Linked DNA regions of Homo sapiens: region 2 is linked to region 1. A link means that fine-mapping ties the variant in region 1 to the expression of a gene that starts in the linked region. Tissue or cell type: lung. Region 1 holds a variant in brackets; the other region holds the start of a gene. All regions are shown on one strand. Distances are between the middles of the regions.

Region 1 (2,500 bases):
CATCAGTGTGTAATTCCCGGCTTACACACTCTCAGCAACAGGCAGCATCATGGAAGAGGCAAGGCAGAAGCCGTGTGAAAGGAGCCTGGAGAGATGCTGGGGGGTCGGGTGCGATCTAGTTCTGCAGCTCTGCTTCTAGAAGGGGTGAGTTGCCGAGTCAGGATGGGACAGCCAGACCTTTTAGGATGAGTGCTATGCAGAGGCTAAGAGCAGGGACCATAAGAACACCTGGGGCTGGGCCCACCTAGGTCTGGACGCCCTTCCCAGCATAGCAGCCAGACTAAGGAGGCTACAAGGAGACGGAAGCGGTACACGGCACTGACATCCAGAGAGCCTCTACATTGTCACAGTGTGACCTAGGCCAACCACTCCACCTCTCCGGCCATCTTCACCTCAGATGTAAAATTCAGGGCTTGGACAAGACTTTTCAAGGCCCTTCTAGTATTGACATTCTTTCAGGAAAGTTGGTGCAATTGTAGCCTGCACTGGGGCTGCAACCAGTACTGGGGCAACAGATTGACACCTGGGGACATGCAGCGGGTCTGACTGCCGAAGCCCAGAGGCCAGCCCTTGGGTGAGCTGGCCAAGTGGTTTTATTGAAGTTGCCATGCAATGTGGCGAGGCTTAGGCTGTTGGCCAACTGGTCAGATTCCTGAAATTGCTCTCTGATGCCCCCTGGACTGTGTCCCTATTTCCCCCTCCATCACAACATGAACCATTCTGAAACTGTTATATGAAAAACCAACCCCAGGAAATGTCTATGGGCTGAATGGGAGAGAACATGGACTTCTGTTCAACAAGGGGCTCCTGTCAACAGAGGAGGGGAGGCACTTATTTATTACGTGCCTTCAGCCAGCCCAGGCTAGTTACACACTGCCTCATCATCATTCCCATGACTCAGAAGTATGTACCTATCCTCCTATTTCCCAACTGGCACAACTGAGGCTCAGAGAGGTTTAGTGGCCCACTGAGAACACCTCACTGGTAAAAGATGGAGTCTGGATGTGCCCCTGGTGCCTGGCTTTGCAGCCCGCTCTGTCCCCTGTGCCTTGCTGCTCCAGTGTGGGAAATCTGCCCTTCCTCCAACCTCGGTCAAAAAGACCTGCCTGACCCTTTGCAATTGGTTGTCAAAGGAGAGTGCCTCCCTGGCCTACACCAAGGCTTGGGAGGTAAAAACGGTAGCTTAGGTTGGGCATAATCCTAGCACTTTGGGAGGCTGGGGTGGGTGGATTGCTTGAGCTCAGGAGTTTGAGACCAGCCTGGGCAACATAGTGAAACCCTGTTTCTACCAAAAATACAAAAAATTAGCTGGGCATGGTGGCATGCACCTTTCGTCCCACCTACTTGGGAGGCTGAGGTGGAAGGATCACTTGAGCTGGGGAGGCGGAGGTTGC[A/C]GTGAGCCGAGATCATGCCACTGCACTCCAGCCTGGGTGACAGAGTGAGCCTGTCTCAAAAAAAAAAAAGTAGCTTAGGAGAAGAAAAGGTAATAAAAAATAGCAACAGCAAACCTTACTGAACTGTTCTAAGAGCTTCATATATTATTACCTCATTTAAACCTCACAACATTGTCACAGGGCAGGTCCTATTATCATGGGAACATGATAGGAAACTGAAGCACACAGAGTAAGGACCTTGCCCGAGAAGATCACGCCACACCGTGCTGCTCTAGGGTCAGTGAGTGAAAGGCACAGAGAGGCCACCGCAGAGTCCAGATGAGAACTTTCTAACAGGAAGAGCTGACCTCACCCAACAGGAAAGATTTAGCAGGAGCTCTCTGCAACCAGAACCATCCAAGCAGGACTGTATGGACAGGCCCTGAGCTCCAAAGCAGTGTTTCTATGTTGCTGTACTCAGAAAAGCCACATGAGGGTGCCTGGGTGCTCCCTCACAGCTCCTCTGTGGCCCCTTCACTGCAGGGCATGGGAGTCTAGACCACCCCAAAGCTTCTACTAGAAGCTTTTACTAGACATTTAACCTTCCCACCAGGGGAGATCAGGAGACCTAGTGCAGGGTAAACTCCTCTCTTCTAAGAGGACCCTGGGCTGCAACCCAGTTTAGTCGCCTTATGACAGATCTTGAAATCCTCATTCTCTCCCTCCACCACTTACCATTGTCAAAAGAAAAATAAAGATACTGAGCCAGTCAGAGCGTGTTTGAACAGCATCCGAGCAGATGTCCTCCGAGATCGCTCAGATGTGAAAGTTATCATTATCCACTGTGCATTTAAATCTGCTTTAAACTCTTTTGGAGCTAAAAATACCATAATTTTCAGAAAACAGACGTATGTAGCTCTTCCCCATCTCCTGAGTGACGGAATACTCAGAGGCAATCATCCACTCTTGAGTGTACTCTTTCCAGTTCTGAATAGGGGTGGGTTGGATGGGGCTCAATTCCTCTCCCACTTCCACCTTCCCACAAAAAGAATAAAGAACAGGAGAACCAGCCCATGCTACCTGCAGGTTACATAAACATTCTCACCACCCAGCAAGAACTGCCTCCC
Region 2 (2,627 bases), 48 kb after region 1:
TCCTTATAATGCAGTGATGCAGGCCAGCAATAGGGACACAGAGAGAGGCCACTGGCCTTGCTGGGATGGAAAAGTGAAGAACCAGGTAAGGTTTCCTTCAATAAGTACTTTCTGGGCCAAGTCTTGAAAGAGTAAAACTAAGACCAACTACCTAGGACCAGCTGCTGCAGCACTTCTGATGCCTGTCACGCCACAGAAAAACCGGTAAACAGAAGCACTGAAAGGACATCATCACTCTTAACTATTGTACACCAGTCCCTCCAATGTGGCAGAGTGTACAGCAATGAAAAAAGGCTTGGAAACACCAGATGCTACACTTTGCTTCCTTCCCCCTTCACACCCCCACCTCTACATTCACCCAAACACACCAGAGAATCCCACAGTGTACGTTTGATTAAGGGTACTAGAAGAACTGACATTTCTAATGTGCTCTATAAAATGTTAAAGTCAAATAAGGCCCCAAAGAGACGCAAAGCTTCGCAAACATCTCGGCAAGGGAGAATTCTCAACGCCTCAGGGAGAGCGGCCTGTTGAAACTTGGATTTTCTTCCTGATACGACGCGCCTAAGATAGTGGACCTATCAGAAGCGGGGGCGAGACGGGCACCTTGAAGGGCAGAGCATGCCCCGCCCGTGACCTGGGCAGCAAGAGCCCTTTAGCCCTCTCCGCCTCGGTTTCCTCAACACCGAAACTGCAGTAAGAATGCTCGAGCCTCCACCAAGTCCTTGACCCAGGAGATCCGCCGTGGAGAACGGAATACGCCCTTAGGATATTGTGCAAAACACCCAGGCGTGGCAAGCAGGTGGCTTCTGTGCGCTCAGTAACGGGGGCGCAGACAGGTGCCCGCGTGCTCGGGGTGCCCTCTCTCCGCGCTGTCCCCCGCACGCACGCGAGCCCAGCGCCTCCCGAGCGAGTGCCCCGGTGCGGCCTCCTCGGGCGCACGGTGCCCAGCCCAGCAACGAGGTCGCCCACCCCGCCTCCCTGCGCGCAGTGCCCGGTGCCCACGCCGCAGCATGGGGCGCGCAGCCCTCACCGCCCGGGAGAGGCGCTTCCTGGAAGCGGAGCCCCGGCCTCCAGCCCGCCGCCGCTCACCAGTTCCCCGAGCCCACGATGCACACTTTCAGGGGCGCCGCTGCCATGGCCGGGCCGAATGTAGCCGCCTGGACCGTGCTTCCCTGGCCGGCTGCCCACCTCCGCCTGTTCAGCCTTGCCCGCAGCGGCTGGCGGCGGCCCCGCCCCTTTCGCCTCTCCGCCAATGGTCGCGGCCACCCCCGCCCGGCGCCGGGGGCCGCAGCTGACAGCGGGGCAGGACCCGCTTCGCCACTCCCAAGAACCACTGCGCACGCCTGGCCCCGGCCGGCCTCCAGGCCCGGCTCCGGCACCGCCCCGCCCTGCCCGAGGCACGTCGGGACATGTAGTCCTCACCCCCCGTCGCTGCGCGGCCCTAGGCAGCAGCTCCCGCCGCGCCACATGCAGGCCCAGGCCACTGAGCAGCGACTCGCGCCCCTGGTTCCCGGTGGAGGCTGCACTCCATCCTCATGGGTGGAGCAGACCCAACCAGCTTGCCGTGGTGCCCCCTACACGCTCCTTTTTCCCTACTCGGGAAGGGCTGCCACATTGCCATTTGGAGCCGAGAGAGGCTCCTAGGTTGACTCTCAAGCCGACCAGACTTGGGGCAGAGCTCGAAATGCCCACCCGACCTTGTCATCCTCTGTTTCATTTGCACAAACAAGACACAGCCTGGCACCTCTGAACTTCTTAGAGAACTTGGATCTTCAGAGGACTTTGGAATTTGGCTGAACAGTACCTGCATTTCAAGGATGACACCTTTTCTAGTTAGAGTCAAGATAGAAACTTGACCTGGTGCAGTGGCTCACACCTGTAATCCCAGCACTTTTGGAGGCCGAGTCAGGAAGATCACTTGAGCCCAGGAGTTCGAGACCAGCCTGAGCAACATAATTAGGACCCCCCACCCCTCTGTACAAAAATTTAAAAAATTAGCCAAGCATGGTGGCACGCACCTATAGTCCTAGCTACTCAGGAGGCTGAGGCGGGAGAATTGCATGTGCCCAGGAGGTCGAGGCTTCAGTGAGCCAGGATAGGGCCACTGCACTCCAGACTGAAGGACAGTGAGACCCTGTCTCAACAAAAAATAAATACATAAAAATAAAGGGAAAAAGGTAACAACAGCTTGCATTCAGTGGGTGTCACCCTCACACGCTTACTTGGCAGGAATTGCTTTACCATTGTCTTTGCCCAGGGCCTGACTTATCCCTTGCTTGTGGTTTGTTTGCATTTGTGAGTAACACAATGCTCTCCTCCTTGACAAATAGAATCTTAGTTTGTTCATTCTGAGCATCAGTCTCTGCCAGGCACTGTGCTAGACGCTGTCAGAGTAGGACAAAGTCCTTTAAACCAGTGGTTCTCAAACTCTGCTGCATATTAGTCACTGGGGCTTTTAAAAATCCCCATGCCCAGACACCATTGCAGGCCAGTTACATCAGAATGTCCCATGGTGGGATCCAGGCATCAGGATATTTACTTATTGACATATATTTTTTGAGACAGTCTCCTTCTGTTGCCCAGGCTGGAGCAGAATTTTTTAAAGTTCAAGAGGTAGTTGCAAA

What was found. PIP is the estimated chance that this variant, and not a neighbour inherited with it, causes the effect.
Region 2: GPD1L starts here. The variant in region 1 is fine-mapped to the expression of GPD1L in lung (TOPMed, PIP above 0.99).

Annotation. Positions count from the first base shown.
Region 1 is chr3:32,153,719-32,156,218 of GRCh38, reverse strand. The region is part of intron 5 of GPD1L (glycerol-3-phosphate dehydrogenase 1 like); the gene reads right to left. Among named protein-coding and RNA genes, the nearest start is that of GPD1L, 48 kb to the right of the region's middle. The variant A/C (reference allele first, on the strand shown) is at 1,395.
Region 2 is chr3:32,105,224-32,107,850 of GRCh38, reverse strand. It overlaps GPD1L (glycerol-3-phosphate dehydrogenase 1 like), which reads right to left and starts at 1,231. Exons shown (of 8, transcript NM_015141.4): 1 at 1,093-1,231. The coding sequence starts at 1,139. RefSeq lists silencers at 829-968, 1,089-1,498.